Regions from separate parts of the Homo sapiens genome. Here region 2 is linked to region 1. The links come from fine-mapping of genetic effects on gene expression. A gene starts in region 1. The other region holds a variant in brackets. All regions are shown on one strand. Distances are between the middles of the regions.

Region 1 (8,372 bases):
TTCTCATCATACCAACACAAAGTCTAGGGCTGTTCTCTCAAATCTGAGACTGAAAGTAGCTTTTAGACCTTTTTCCCCCCTTCCAGGCTACATTTTAATATTTAATATGATTTCAAAAATTGTGGCAGGAAAAAGACCCCAGATTTGTTTGTATTCAAAGTTCTAAAGATTATTTATGATGTTAAAGTAGTGAGATTGAATTTTCCCTTCCCTCCCTCCCTCCCTCCTTCCCTTCCTCTCTCTCTCTTTCTTTCTTTTTTGAGACAGGGTCTTGCTCTGTTACCCAGGCTAGAGTTCAGTGGCACAGTCATAGCTCACTGCAGCCTCGGGCTCAAATTATCATGACATTAAATTTTTGACAAAAAATTTATACAAAATGCAGTTAAATGAGAGTACTGCTAGCCATTAGGAAGCTATATCTGAAGGCTGAATCTGAAGTCAAGGGATTGATTTTTTTGGTTTTTGTTTTTAATAAACATTCCAACTCATATCAGATGAATGCCTCCTTCAAAGGAGTCATTCTGGGAAGTTCTACACTTATTCTAATTATGTCCCTGTTTTCAAATTATGATGTCTGGTGTTGCTTTCAGGGTTTGTGAGATAGTCTTTTGAATGCTCTCAGTGTTGACTCTTGAAAGTAGATTTGATTTTAAAAAACAATCAAGGGTTCTGGGCCAAATCTGGTGAACTAGGGGGGCGGTCAAACTGTGTAATGCCAAGAGGGGTGACTCTAATGTATCCAGGCTGATTTTTCTTGAGTGAATTTGTAGTCACCAGAAGGCACTTTCTGAAGACAAACTCAGACATGAAGTAAACATGTTATAAGCATGACATCAAGCTTGAGTTTGGGGAGGAGAGTTGGAAGATGGTGACTGCGCTGAAGGAAACCCCACTCATTTGGGTATGCAAGTTTTCTAGGATCTCCTCTACCCAGAATATTTCTTCAGGTCCAGATCTATCCTATTTCACAGGACCACAGTTCCCAGACTTACAAGGATCCTACTGCCTTAGTCAACTTTTAACCCCCAACCTGAGTACTTCCCTCCCCCCCGGGCAAAGACAGGGTCTTGCTCTTTTGTACAGTGGTGGGATTACAGCTCATTGCAGCTTTGAACTCCTGGGCTCGAGTAATCCTCCCGCCTCAGCTTCCCAAAGTGCTGGGATTAGAAGCATGAGCCGCCGCGCCCGGCCCTGGACCTGAGTACTTGATATGTGTGCAATCAATACCTGATGGGAAATTAAGTATGGGGAAGAACGTCTAAGGTGTCTGGGTTTAGTCTACATGATTCAAAAGGCAGAAGAGGTAGAAGGATTTGGAGACACAAATTCTGCTCTATATGAGGAAACATTGTCAGCCACTGGAGCTGTCCAGCAATGGAATTAGTTTGCTCTGTAAATAGTGAGCTTTCGGCCCTGGGAGGAGTTTAAAGCAAAGGCTGCTTGTATGGGAACCTGCAGAGGTGTCTCCTGTAATAGGTGGGGAGCTATGCAATGACCTTCAAGGGCTATCTCCCACCTACACAGTATCTGACATTTGGTAGGCCTTGGAAAAACCTGGTAGAATGGAACAAATAAGGAATATGGTGCATCTTGTGAATCAAGTAGAGAGGAAAGAGGCCTGGGGCTCAATCAGGAGCAAGAAGTGAGGCAGAAGTGAGATGAAAATAGCCAGGGAGCCAAGAGGTAGAGTCTTCCTTGGGTTTTTAGTACCATAGGAGAGAAATTGCTTTGGGTACCTAGAGCCTCACGTGGTTAGGAAAGGATAATACCTTTGAAGGGGATAGGAGTTGGGGGAGAAGATAGACTACTGCTCACCCTTCTTAAACTCCTCCAGAACCGTGTCCAGTCGGGTGTCATTGAAAACACAATGCAGGGGCCGGTTGTAGAAGCGGGTGACAGTGAGGAGCGGGGTGCAGTCGTCGGGGTCCACGAAGGCCAAGTCCTTGACAAATAAAATGTCCACAATGTTGTGCCGCTGGTCACCCTCGTACACTGGGATGCGAGTGTAGCCGCTGCGCAGGATCTCGGAGACAGTGGCGAAGTCGAGCACCGCGTCTGAGCGCAGCATGAAGCAGTCTCCCAGGGGGGTCAGCACCTCCTCCACAACTTTGGTGCGCAGCTCCAGGGCACCCTGTATGATGTTGAGCTCCTCCTTCACCAGGTCACTGTAGGGGTCTGCGGCCCGCAACGTCTCCAGCAACTTCTCCCGCGTGTAGAAGGTGCTTATCTCCTGGCGCAGCGCCCAGTCCAGCAGGCGGCCCAGCGGGTAGCACACGGGGAAGGCGGCTGCCATCAGAAGCCGGGTCAGGCACACGCTGTGCGAGGCGATGGCCAGCCCGTGCCGCGAACACACTGAGTAGGGGCAGATTTCGGCGCCCAGGAATACCGCGCCGGTGCACACGAGCGCCGGCAGCCACGGGAAGTGGATCCCCTCTTCGCTGTAGTCTTCCCCGGTGCCCCCGAAGCCCGGCGGCAGCGAGGTGTACAGCCAGCCAGCCAGGGCCGCGTTGGCTCCGGCTTGGCCCAGGAGTAGGGTGCAGAGCAGATGGGTCCCCCTGCCGCGAACGGCCTGCACGCGGCGCGCCTGCTCCTGCTCGGCGGCCGAGCCGCTGTTCCGCAGCACCCGTAACTCCACCGGGTCCAGCGACAGCAGGCTCAGGCGCAGGCCGCTGAACAGGGCCGACAAGGCTAGCAGCAGGAGCGCCCCGAGCGCCCGCAGCCACGCAGGGGGCAGCAGGTCCCCGCCTGGGCCGTACAACCGCGGGCGAACGCGCAGCAGGAAGCCGCCGGCGGCGCCGTGGTGGTGCCACGCGCGCCCATCCCAGGCGCAGAGTGAAAAGAGCTTCCCGCCACCGCCCGCGCCGCCCCGCTCCGCTTCGCCCTTGCGCAGCTCCCGCACTCGCACCTGGACCAGGGCCGAGCCTGCCACGCCCCCGGGACGCAAGGGCCCCAGGACTTCCACGTCCGATGCCCAGTCGCTCTGCTCCCTGCAGCGCTGCGGTCCCGGGGGGCGAGTGGGGACCGCGCTGGGGGCCACGCCGCCACCGCCCGGGGGCTCCTCGATGAACACGAGCCGCGGAGCCCAGTCGCCGGTGCCATTCTCCCCCGAGTTGAGGGTCGGTGAGGGCACCGGTGCGGCGGTGGCCGGCGGTCCTGGCTGGAAATAGACACGCAGGAGGAAGCTGGTGCCTTCGGCGGCGCGCAGGGTGCCCCCCTCCAGGGACACGCGGCCTCCAGCAGTGTCCTCGGGCCGCAGGCCCAGCAGCCAGGCGGCGGCGGCCGGGGGCCGAGGAGACAGGGAAAAGAAGAGCAGGAGCACAGCGCCTCGGCTGCAGCAGTCCCGGAGCCTGACACCCACCGCTGCTGCCGCCGCCGCGGCCGCCGCCATCCTGCACCCAGCGCAGCTGCACGTGATACTGCAGGAAGCCGAGCGAGAGCTGGAGGGAGGAGGAGCCGGAGCTGGGAACCCAGCCGCAGGCAGGTCACCACGTGTACGCCCACTGCGCGCGTGGGCTGGTGGCGGTGGGCATTCAGACTCCACCTGGGCAGGAGGTCCCCGCTGGAGGCTGGAGGTGGCCAGGCATCACCGCACTGTGCGTAGCGGGTACACACTTCGGTATATCTGAGATGCAGCCTGAAAAGTCTGGGTTTGCAGCATGGCCTCCTACTCCAAAAGTAAGGTGCTCCTCTGCGAACTCCTACCCGGCAGTAATTCCCTGCCGGCTCCACTGCTTCCCCATTGGCCCGGGAAATTTCCCAGCTTTTCGCTTCTCCTGCCACTTGCATTCCCCCTTCTGGTCAAAAGAATATTCTGGAGTCAAGTCTTGAATATGTGAAAACTTTTAGCCTCAACTCCAGCCGACCTTTCATTATTGTAAACATTTCTGGATTATTTAAGTTCAATTCTTAGTTAAGATCCGAATGTCCATCAATAAGAAACTGTTGAAATAAGTGAAACCACTGTGCAATGGAATACTATGCGGCAATAAAAAATAATGCGGTGGATCTGTTGTATATGTGATACGGAAAAAAATCTCCAAAGTAATTGTAGAAACAAAGTAAGGTGCAGAACAGCAAGTATAATATGCTACCATTTGTGTTAAAAGTATTTATGTATAAATTTGTACACACACACACACTTATATGAGATTTATTTATTTATTTATTTATTTTGAGATGGAGTCTTGCTCTGTCGCCCAGGGTGGAGTGCAGTGGCACAATTTTGGCTCACTGCAACCTCCACCTCCCGGGTTCAAGCGATTCTCCTACCTCAGCCTCCTGAGTAGCTGGGATTACAGGCGTGCGCCACCGCGCCCAGCTAATTTTTATATTTTTAGTAGAGATGGGGTCTCACCATGTTGGCCAAGCTGGTCTCGAATCCCTGACTTCAAATGATCCATCTGCCTCGGCCTCCCAGGGTGCTGGGATTACAGGCGTGAGCCACCGCGACCCGCCGTTTACATCTTTTAATTAATTTATTTATTTTGAGACGGAGTTTCGCTCTTGTCACCCAGGCTGACGTGCAATGGCGCGATCTCGGCTGACTGCAACCTCCGCTTTCCAGGTTCAAGCGATTCTCCTACCTCAGCCTCCTGAGTAGCTGGGATTACAGGCGCCCGCCATCACGCCCGGCTAATTTTTTTTTTTTTTTTTTTTGGTAGAGACGGGGTTTCACCACGTTGGCCAGGCTGGTCTCGAACTCCTGACCTCAGGTGATCCGCCTGCCTCGGCCTCGCAAAGTGCTGGGATTACAGGCATGAGCCACCGTGCCTGGCGGGTTACATCTTAATTATAGTACAATATCAAAAGCAGGAAGTTGATATTGGTGTAATGTGTGTATATAGTTCTCTATCATTTTATCACATGTATGGATGTATGTGACCATCACTGCACTCAAAATACAGATCTATTATCACCAAGATCTGGGAGGGAGACTTTCTTATTAAATTCCTTATATTGTTTGAATTTACTCGACTATATTATTTTTATGCATTTATTTTTAAACTTTATATAGTAAAATTCACTTTTTGGTGTACTGTTCTATGAATGTTGACAAATGCATATACATGTAAACATCACAATAAAAAGTAATTCCATCACCACCACCCCCCAAATTCTCTTACCGTCCTATTGTATGTAGTCAACCCCTCCCTTCGTCTTATCCTCTGGGAACTACTGATCTGTTCTCCCCTATAGTTTTCTTTTCCGGATTATCATATAAATGGAGAATACAGTCTGTAGCCTTTTGGGTTCTCCCTTCCTTTACTAAGTTAGCATAATGCATTTACGATTCATCTATGTTGTTGTGATTTTCAGTAGTTCATCCTTTTGTATGGCTGAGTAGCATTCCATTATATGGATGTGTCACTGTTTGTTTATCCATTCAATAAAGGATATTTAAGTTATTTCCAGTTTTTAGCAATTATTAATAAAGTGGCTATGAACATTTGTGTGATGGTTTTTGTGAGAACATAAATTTTTATTTCTCTTGGGTAAATTTATCATAAGTCTGTATTACATTTTAAAATATAGTAATCCTAACTACTTGGTAGGCTGAAGTGGGAGGATCTCTTGAGGCCAGGAGTTAGAGACCAGCCGGAACAATGTAGGGAGGCCCTGTCTCTAAAAAATTAAAAATTAAAAAAAATTAGCCAGGCATGGCGACACATGCCTGTAGTTTCATCTACTTGGGAGGCTGCAGCAAGAGGATCACTTGAGCCCAGGAATTCGAAGCTGCAGTGAGCTATAATCGCATCACTGCACTCCAGCCTGGGCAACAGCATGAAACCTTGTCTCTAAAAATAATTAATAAATTAAAAAGGAAGAGTTATTTTACATACCACCCTTGGCACCTGGGTTTAGTGTAAAATCATCCCTATGTGTGAAATCTCATTTTCCGTGGCATTTGTGACATGCCATTGTCTCAGAATACACTAGATCCTGTCCACTATAAGCTGCTTTTTGCATGGGCTACTTAAGAGACAGAAGGGAGGTTTAATCTTATGAGGGAACATTGAGGCATTTATTCGAAGTATAAGGGAAGGAGAGAACTGGGGTCAACCATATGATTGTTTTTCTTCCTTTCTTTCTTTCTTTTTTTTTTTTTATTGAGACGGAGTCATGCTCTGTCACCCAGGCCGGAGTGCAGTGACGCGATCTTGGCTCACTGCAACCTCCACCTCCTGGGTTCAAGCAATCCTCCTGTCTCAGCCTCCCAAGTAGCTGGGATTACAAGAGTGTGCCACCACACCTGGCAAATTTTTGTGTTTTTAGTAGAGATGGGGTTTCACCATGTTGGCCAGGCTGGTCTCAAACTCCTGACTTCAGGTGATCCACCTGCCTCGGCCTCCCAAAGTGCTGGGATTACAGGCGTGAGCCACCCGCCCAGCTGATTGTTTTTCTTAAGTGCAAAAAAGCGCTTACTTCTCTCCTGACACTTAGACTTCTTTCCCTTCCCAACCTAAACTCCTCAGCACAAAGATACCCGCTATCCTAAGGGCTTTCCCAGCTCTTTTAGACCACAGAACATTATCATCATTACAATACCACGTAACATCTTTAACAAGCTTTAAAGTTATGAAGGAATTTCTTATTTATTATTCCATATACACAAGAGCCCTGGGAAGTAGGTATAATTATACCCATTTTACAGATCAGGTTAAATGACTGGTAAAACTTCTTTGGACCCTAGCTTGATGCTTCCTTTATCTGGTAGAGCTGACGGAAATAAAATGTTTAAAAAATATTAGAGCAGGAATTAAAAAACTGAAATTTCTGGTTATAAAGTATTACATGCTTATTAACAAAAATTTTAATGCAGAAGAACATAAATAAAAATACACCATGACCCACCAACTAGAGATAAACACTGTTAACATTTTTTATACTACTTTTTACATTTTCTACATAGATAAGTAATGGAGAAATACATGCACACACACACACACACACGTGCTCTCCATATAGTTACATATTTTATAATTAAATATGTATTATACATAATTCTAGTCAGCTCCTGCTACTTAACACATCAAGGGCTTTTTCCCCAATGTAATAAAAATCATTCATAAATGTCATTTAAATAAATCAAATATATATGTATTACATATGTATTGAGAAAGAGAGAGAACTGTAAGAATGAGCCTATTCCCAATTGCACCAGCTCTATTATTAACAAATGTTAGGCTTGGAAAATCAATCTACTTTTCTGGGCTCATTTCCTCATTCGTGAAATGACAGTTTTAAGCTCCCTACCCTTTCATGAGTCAGTGAGTAAGGGCTAATGTACACTGTGTGAAGATAATCTAGAGAGACTGAGTACTTTTCCTTTTACTGAATAGGAGGTTCTGGAAAAGTACTGGGTTTCCAGAGCTCTGCTGTAACTGAAAGGATTCCTGGGGACAGGTTCAGGCAGTGTGATTCTCCTAAGGAAGAGCTGCCAAAAATAGCTCCCCAGAATCTGAATGTTTACTGTCTTCTTAGCTTACAAGATGGGCACTTCCTCGCTTCTCAGAGAGATGGAGGAAATAATACTTACTTTTAATATCATGACTATACTATTTCAGAATGTACATGTTAAAATGCTTTTGTTTATTTCATTTCTTGTTCATCCATTCCATAAATATTTGTTAATCATCAAAGTGCCAGGCCTTGTGCTAGATATTGGGCATATCTGACACCATCTTTGTCATCTTGGAGCTTAGATTCTCCTGAGGAAGACAGACATAAACCGGAAATTACCTACCTGCCTAATTAATTAATTATTGCCATGAAGGAGCTGTTCAAAGTGCCCTGAGGGTGCATGGGACCCATCATCTAGGGAAGAGGGTCTGGGAACTCTATCCACAAAAATTAGATGTTATAAAAATGGAAGAATTTATACATTAGGAAGAACATAAAATTATTAAATTTTGTATCTTCTATTCCTTTTTTGTACTTTAAAACTATGACAGTATATTAGTAATATTCCTAATAATGTAATCTGTTAGCTTTTTTTTTTTTTTTTTGAGGCAGGGTCTTGCTCCATCGCCCAGGCTGCAGTGCAGTGGCGTGATCTCCACTCACTGCAACCTTTGCCTCTGGGTTCAAGCGATTTTTGTGCCTCAGCTTCCTGAGTAGCTGGGATTACAGAAGCACGCCACCACTCCTGGCTAATTTTTGTATTTTTAGTAGAGATGGGGTTTCGCCATGTTGGCCAGGCTGGTCTCGAACTCCTGACCTCAAGTGATCTGCCCACCTCGGCCTCCCAAAGTGCTAGGTTACAGGCATGAGCCACCGTGCCTGGCCTGTTAGCATTTATTGAGTGTTTGCCATGTGCCAAGTACATTATCCCTCTTAATTCTCACAATAGATGAGAAAATTGAGGCTCAGAT
Region 2 (8,372 bases), 130 kb before region 1:
TAGCTGGACGAGGGTTGGCACTCCTGTAGTCCCAGATACTCAGGAGGCTGAGGCAAGATAATTGCTTGAACCCGAGAGGCAGAGGTTGCAGTGAGCCAAGATCATGCCACTACACTCCAGCCTGGGTGACAGAGTGAGATTCCATCTAAAAAAAAAAAAAAAAAAGAAATGGTAGGTCCTAAAGAAACCCTGGAAAAATAGAAAGAAATTCCAAAAATATGTAATCATTATGTCTTTTATGGTTGTTGTGTAGCTTTATGTTGAAGCACAGTAGGACATGACCAAAATGAAACAAACACCCTATGGGCCTACCCACTTAGAAAGCCTGGTTGCCTAAAGAGCCGACAAGGCAAATCGATGGCTTTTGGACACCAGCTGGGCCTTTCATCTATGAGGGCCTGCTTTCCGGCAAACTGAAAACACCAAAGTAGTCAAATAAATGAAAAGCTTAAATGCAGTGTATGTACACAGTCCATAAACCCTTTAGAATTCTGCAACAAAAAGACAATTATTTAATAGAAGCTGTTTGTTATTTTTTTCAAAAAAGTCTCAAGTAATTGCATACTGAAATAGAAATAGGCATTTTGAAATAAACTCATGGTGTGTTCATCCAAATCTGAAGCCCCTAAAAATTTCAGAATTACTGGGTAGGATTTGAAGCAGTTACATTAAGATTGATGTCATATTTCATTAGAACATTGATTCCCAGGCTCTTAATCACCAGGAGTCTCTTTATTACCATTGTTCTCTTCAAGCAGTCACTTATCTTAGGTCATCACTGTGTATTCAAGTCCACAATTGCTCATGGGTTCAATTGGCATCCTGGACTGTCAGGTGGACCAATAACATTCCGGAAATTTCTGTGACTTCAACAAATGTCAATCATAGCGACTAGCATGATACGCCATTAGTGAATGGAGTAGATACTGTTCTGCTCAAAAGGAAAGAACCTTGACAACCCTATCATAGGGAAGGAGTTGGGCCTTCATATTATCAAAAATAAGATATAAGTCATTATTACTAAGTTTGTAAATGCCTCACGAGTCAAGACCCCAAGGATGGAAACGCCTACATTTGAGATTTTTCTGAAAACCTTCCAGCTTTCAATAATTGTGACTTTTTTTTTTTTTTTTTTTTAATTTAAGACGGAGTCTCACTCTGTTCCCCAGGCTGGAATACTGCAGTGGCACGATCTTGGCTCACTGCGACCTCCACCTCCCAGGTTCATACGATTCTCCTGCCTCAGCCTCCCAAGTAGCTGGGATTATAGGTTGCCATCACGCGCAGCTAATTTTTGTATTTTTAGTAGAGATAGGATTTCACCATGTTGGCCAGGCTGGTCTCGAACTCCTGACCTCAAGTGATCTGCTCTCCTTGGCCTCCCAAAGTGCTGGGATTACAGGCCTGAGCCACCGTGCCCGTCCAACACTTTTCTGAGTTGACTCATCTTGAGCCTGTCAACCAAGGACAGCTAGTGATGCCACAAATGTGGCTGTTCTCACTTCCCTGTCTGTGCAGACATCTCCAACCCATCTATATTCTTTCCCATTGAGTGATTCTTCTCAATGTAATGTTCTAAGCAACCAATGAACCAGAGCTGTTACTGCAGATGGAAGTCACTTGCCTTCCTGTATCCCAGGTGATTTGTCCATAAGGCAAGTATGAGGGATACAGGCTCAGATTCTCTTAAGTAGGGAAACTTGAGATGCCATGATAAGGGTGGAAGATACAGACATGAAGGGAACGAAGGGATATAGAGGTCACCTCAAGAATAAGAATCTGGCCAAGCACGGTGGCTCATGCCTGTAATCCTAGCATTTTAGGAGGCCGAGGTAGGTGGATCATTTGAGGTCACGAGTTCGAGACCAGCTTGGTCAACATGGTGAAACCCCATCTCTACTAAAAATACAAAAATCAGCCGAGAGTGGTGGTACACACCTGTAATCTCAGCTACTAGGGAGGCTAAGGCAGGAGAATCACTTGAACCCAGGAGGTGGAAGTTGCAGTGAGCAGAAATCACACCACTGCACTCCATCCTGGCAACAGAGCTAGACTTTATCTCAAATAAATAAGAATCTGACTTCTCTTCCACGCCTATTGACAAGTGACTATAAATCCTTATTCTTTTTGCCTCCTGTGCTCTTCCATGCACAGATACAAGGGTTGAACAAAAAGGTATCAGAGTGAATAGGAAAGGTTAGTCCAAGAACAAATTAAAGGAAACTTCCAAAGTATTCTTGGGAAAATACCCTACACAACAAAAAGGCCAGAGCTTCCTGTTCTCCCAAGTCCTTTTTCTCACATTAACTACTTGGAGCTTGATGCTTCTATGAGAAAGGGAGAGAAGGTGTTGGTGTCATCCTTTCTTTCACTCATGACGAAAGAGAAGCTTAAAGATGATGAGTGATTTTTCAAGATCAAGACTAGGAAAGCATGGTATTGGAAAAGAACTTAGATTTAAAACTCTAAGTCCAGTCCTCTTTCTGATGTACATGTGCTTCTCATATTGGGGTGTGAACATCTCAGGGCAAGCATGGTGGGACTAGGAAATTATTTCAAAGATTTGAGATAAAATGGCCCTTCTCAAAGGTTTTTAGGGAGACATTTTGATATAAAAAATATAAAGGCACATGATGAAGTAGAATACAGAAACTGCATAACTTTTTATGACAAAATACAAGATTTCAAAGATATTGGCACAAATGGTAATGGCTTTTCTGGCTGTACCCTGAGACGTCCTGATGGTGTGCTTTCATTGTTCTCTGCTGTTCTGGTGGAGATGAGAAGTACTATTCTTCACCACAGCGCCTCACTTCTTTCCCTCTTCTCCTCCTCTTCCTCCTCTTTGTTGCTCTTCTTCTTCATGTTTTTAGTTGATATTGCCACTCTCTCAGCACTCCAATGACAGCTTGTTTGCAAGATCATTTCAGAGGCATGATGCTGCTGTCAGGACTGCAGTTGTGGGAGGAGCTGACTCTTCCAGGGGTGATGCGGACAGGGTTGGGAAGAGACTGAGTCACACTCTAGGCTGAGTCACCTTCACTGGGTAAGTGTGGACCTGCAGTTGAACCACTCTGCTGGTGGCATGTACCCTAATATGCCTGTATCAGCGTATTAGTCAGATTGGGCTGCTGTAACAAAATACCATAAACTAGGTAGCTTAAACAATGAAAATGTGTCTTTTTTGCAGTTCTGGAGGCTGCACATCTGAGATCAGGGTGTCAGCATGGTCAAGTTCTGGTAAGGGCTCTCTTCCTGGCTTGCAGATGGCTGCCTTCTTGCTGTGTTCTTACGTGGCAGAGAGAGAGAAAGAGAGGCTTTCTAGTACCACTTTTTATAAGGATACTATTCTCATCTTGAAGGTCCCATCCTCATGACCACATCTAAATCTAATTATCTCCCAAAGTTCCAGTCTCCAAATACTATCACGTTGGGGGTTAAGGCTTCAGCATATGGATTGGCAGAGAGTGGAGGAGAACAATTAAGTACATAGTAATCAGTGAGGGTGATTTAAATTGTAAGTAACGGAAGACCCAACTCAAAGAAACTTCAACAATGACAGGCATCTGTTGGCCCAGGAAACTGGAGGCACGTTAGGGTGGCTGTCAGGAACAGTTGATGCTGAACAGCCTGAACCATGGAGTTCTGGTGTCCATAGCACTGCCTTCATCCTAAGACTGCTTATTCTTTCAGTGTCGAATGTCTGAGACTTCATGCTTCCTAGTTCACTTCCAGTGAACATGTCTTCTAAGTTGAAATTATGTCAGGGCCTCATTCCCACATCAATTACTGTGGCCAGTTAAACCAATCAAAGTTTTTTTCTGGGAGCTGAAGAATCAACCCATTCAAATTCCATAGCTACTTCATAATCTGAGAAAGAAAGGAACAGAGATGGTAGGAGATGATTATGTTGCCCATTACAGTTTTCTCTTTAAAATTGTCCACTTTAAAAAGTTGACTGTGTCTGGTGCATGGTAAGTTCTCAGTAAATATAAGTAGTCTAACTTATATCCTGCCTGTGTATTAGGAGTTATTGTGAATGTCCAGGGAAGGGGTAATAATGATATGGACCCTACGGAAAGCATAAAGGGAAATGCTGTCAACACCTCTCTGAACTCTTACGTTGTGGCAACACAAAGAAATTCAAGAGAGAGGCAGAAGTCTGTGGCCCCAGA[A/G]GCTGCATTTGGGGTTTCACTGGGATCACATTGCATCTGTATGCACTTCCTCTTCTACATCTGGGGAGAGCCATTTTCATTATGGAAATTGGCATTGGTTCAAGCCAGCCTGGTAGGATCTGAATTTTCTCTTTACTTAAAACATTCGCCTGAGGTCAGGAGTTTAAGACCAGCCTGGGCAACATGGTGAAACCCCGTCTCTACTAAAAATGCAAAAATTTAGCTGGACGTGGTGGTGCATGCCTGTAGTCCCAGCTACTCGGGAGGCTGAAGCAGGAGCATTGCTTGAACCCGAGAAGTGGAAATTGCAATGAGCCAAGATGGCGCCACTGCACTCCAGCCCAGGCGACAGAGCGAGACTCCATCTCAAAAAAAAAAAAAAAAGAAAAAAGAAAAAACATTTACTATGACTTATATCCATACATCACATTGTAAATGACTTTGGAATATATCTAGTTAACAAGCTGGGAGTCCATTATGCTAAGTGAAATAAGTCAGTCACAAAAAGACAAATACTGTGTGCTTCCACTTATATGAGGTACATAGGGTAGTCAAATTCATAGAGACAGAAAGTAGAATGGTGGTTGTCAGGGAGTAGGGGAAGGTAGGAATGGGGAGTTAGTGTTTAATGGATACAGAGGTTTCAGTTTTGCAAGATGAAAGGCGTTCTGGAGATGGATGGTGGTGATGGTTGCACAGCATTGTGAATGTACTTAACGCCACTGAACCCTACATGTAAAAGTGGTTAAGACAGTAAACTTATGTGATAAATATTTTACTATAATTGTTTTAAAATTAGGAGTCACGTGTGGGATTTCCATTTTTACCTTTTACCATCATTTTTTTAAAAGCTCTTTTCTATTGCTACTTTAATCATCTTACTTGTACAGTCAGCAAAAAAGATGATTTGTTTTTCCACCCCAGGCACCAAGATTTCTTTTTTAAGGTTAAATTTAGACCTTCTAGTGAGGTACTCTAGATTATTTTCTAGATTTACTATGTATTACTTTTCTTCTAAAATTTTCCTTTCCATTTTTGCCCTCTCTGATAGTGGAATTGTTTTGCAGCTCATTTTTCTCCTTTTTCTTTTCCCAAAATTGACTAACTTTAGTGGCTATTAGAGTTACTGTCATTATACATTTTCTTGGGAGGATCAGAACAACCCAGCCAAGTTTTGGGTAAGATATAGCAAAAGCCAAATTCTCCCATGTATTGTGGCTGCAGCCTGAGTGTCACATCCTTCGCCAGGTGCTCAACTGTCACCTACTTTGCCAGGTCCCTTATAAACATGACTTCATTAGCTTGTCACAGCTTCCCTGTGAGGTGTGTGTCTCATTGTCATTATACACCAGGACACTCAGCAAGGTTGAGTAACTTGTTCAAATCTCACAGCTGGTATCCTTGGCCCTGAAGCTTGATAAGGTTGTTTTTTTTTTTTTGTTTTGTTTTGTCTGTTTGTTTTTGAGACAGAGTTTTGCTCTGTTGCCCAGACTGGAGTGCAGTGGCGAAATCTCAGCTCACTGCAACCTCTGCCTCCCGGGTTCAAGTGATTCTCCTGTCTCAGCCTCCCAAGTAGCTGGGACTACAGGCGCGTGCCACCATGCCCCGCTAATTTTTGTATTTTTTTAGTAGAGATGGGGTTTCACCATATTGGTCAGGCTGGTCTTGAACTCCTGACTTTGTAATCCGCCCGCCTTGGCCTCCCAAAGTGCTGGGATTACAGGTGTGAGCCACCGCACCCGGCCAGATCTTTCTTTTTATACTCCACTGCCTCCATCCAGTCTTTGCCTCCTATCAAGGCATTAGGATAGCTCCATCTCTGACCTCCTGGGGCACTGTCTGCCTTTGCAGGGGAGTGAAAAAGCCTGCTGGGAAGAGCTGGTAGTAGAATCCCCTGTAGTAAGAGATGGTTATCCTGGCTTTAGAATTGCCTCCCACCTTATCCTCCCTCCATCTGCCCAGTTCCTCCAGGTTCCCCTAGTTCTCCAGCTGCTGTCACCACATCTAAACCAAAGGACACTTTGATCCTCTCTTGGAGCCAACATGGGTGTAGACAAACCCCCTTATTCTCTGTGTTCAGCAGAAACAAGGATAGCACTTTTCACAAGTAAAGGAACATTTTCTAAGAAAGAAGACAAGACCAAGCTGCAACCAGAAAAGACAAAAGCATCCGAGTAGATGTACTGACAGTGGATGTACTGCTTCTCTTTGTAATTTAACTGCAGTCCTTCCAGAGTGGCTAAGAGTTTTTTTTTTTCCCATAAGTTATTGGAATACACGTGGTATTTGGTTACATGAGACATTCTTTAGTGGTGATTTGTGAGATCCTGGTGCACCCATCACCCAAGCAGTATATACTGCACCATATTTCTTGTCTTTTATCCCTCACTGCCTTCCCACTCTTCCCCACAAGTCCCCAAAGTCCACTGATTTAGCTGCAGTTTTACTTCTCAGTCCCCTCAAGGGGAAGCAGAATCCCAATTCTTTCTTCCTTCCTGGGGCAACAATAGGTCTGAGTGGCCGGTGGACCGCTGCCCCTCAGGAGATAACGTTCACATTTCTCCAGGGTTAAGGTTACATGACCAATTTCCACACGTGGAACTTAGTGTCCTCCTCTCCTGACAAGGGGATGAGGAAACTGACATACTGAGAGGAACTTGACAGGAGTTTAATTCTCAAGACCACTCCCACAAAGAAGATATTGTAAAGAAGAGTTAAGAGTGTGTTCAAATTCCAGCACTGCCCACTGCTAGCAGTGAGACTTCAAGGTAGGCAAACTGTTCAGCCCTTTAAAGTCCCACTTTCCCCATGTAGGGGCTCAGGGAGAATTGAAGAGGTTTGTACACACAGTGCTCAAAAAAACCCCAAAACATTCAATGTTATTAACGACCCTGGGAACTGGGTGTCAATACTCCACTTTTACAATTAAGGTAGGTCGGCTGAGGTCAAGGCCCACGTTCTTTCTATTTCCCCATTGCTGCGGCCCTCATCTGAGCACTTGTTCTCATACTGCCTTGCACCATTACCAGACTCTGCATTTGTGGAGGCCATAATAACCCTAAGTAAATAACTGCTTTTGAATTAAATGCATGAATGCCTGTGTTAGTAAAAGGAGAGGAAATGATTTGAATTTGAGAGACAGCAAAAGTACTTATACCAGAGGCGAATAGATTAATTCATTTAGACAGTTAATATTTACTGAGTATTCACAGGGTACCCAGCCCTATACATGCTGATTCCACAATTTTGGATGCCTGGAGGGCATGGGGAAGGTAGGGCGGGGTGACTGGAAGAATGGGGAAGTTGGTATAAAAAAGTCTGAATTATAATTAATATCCTTCTTTTCAGATAATTATAATCTTCAAGTTGGGTTGAAAAAGTATTGTTGGATTAAGTAAAAAAAGATAATATCATTTGCGATGGCTATATTAGTCATTATTATGGGAAAACATTTCTGCCTCTTCTATCCCCAAATCCTAGTTCATGAATACTTTGCATACTCTCACAAAGCTAGTAATTTTAATTGTAAATTAGTATAGAGTCCAAGTGAAGTTTTTTATTAGACTGTTCCTATGGGCAGAAAGTGACACCATGCCTAGGATCAGGGGACAAGATGCCGGAGAGCAGGACTTCCTGTCTTGAAGATGGCATATGATCCCTGACTTGGTCATTTATTTAATTTAAGAACAGGACAAGTAGCACAGGTGGGAATCCCAAAGGTCACAGGCATCTGCAGTCAGTTTGGGGTAACATTGCCATTGCTACAAAGGCTTGATGCAGTCAGGGTCCTGGATAGATTGGTGAAGTGAGGGGAAGACATGGAGGATTCCAGGGCTGAGAATCCCTCAGTGTGGGCATCTGCAGGTTCAGACAGGTAAGAGAACAGACAGGTTAAAGCAGGTTGGATCACAGATGACACGGTGAGAAAGGACCCATAGGAGCATGAGTTCTTGAAAGTAGTGTTAAAATCAGAGTGAGATGAATCTGGGGACCTCAGTTCTCTTGCAATCAATCTTGACTCATTAAATGGATTATGGCTGATGCAAAAAGGGGACTTGTGAAGGCAGCCTAGTAATGTGCCTCCAAGCATATAGTATTTGAATCCCAATCTGTCACAAGCTGCCTGATAGCAGTAAAGTATGTAATCTTTGGGCTTCCACTACCTCATTTGTAAAGTGGGGATGACAACAGTACTTG

Which allele goes with the higher level. Positions count from the first base shown, and alleles are read on the strand shown. Sizes are in standard deviations (SD) of each study's normalised expression.
In carriers of allele A in region 2, the expression in nucleus accumbens of the gene that starts at base 3,420 in region 1 tends to be higher than with G alone (small effect, 0.30 SD a copy in GTEx).

Evidence for each region. PIP is the estimated chance that this variant, and not a neighbour inherited with it, causes the effect.
Region 2: its variant is fine-mapped to the expression of CNNM1 in nucleus accumbens (GTEx, PIP 0.97).

Annotation. Positions count from the first base shown.
Region 1 is chr10:99,324,404-99,332,775 of GRCh38, reverse strand. It overlaps CNNM1 (cyclin and CBS domain divalent metal cation transport mediator 1), which reads right to left and starts at 3,420. Exons shown (of 11, transcript NM_020348.3): 1 at 1,816-3,420. The coding sequence starts at 3,388.
Region 2 is chr10:99,456,107-99,464,478 of GRCh38, reverse strand. It overlaps GOT1-DT (GOT1 divergent transcript), which reads right to left. Exons shown (of 5, transcript NR_183993.1): 5 at 2,646-3,870. Among named protein-coding and RNA genes, the nearest start is that of GOT1-DT, 29 kb to the right of the region's middle. The variant A/G (reference allele first, on the strand shown) is at 4,176.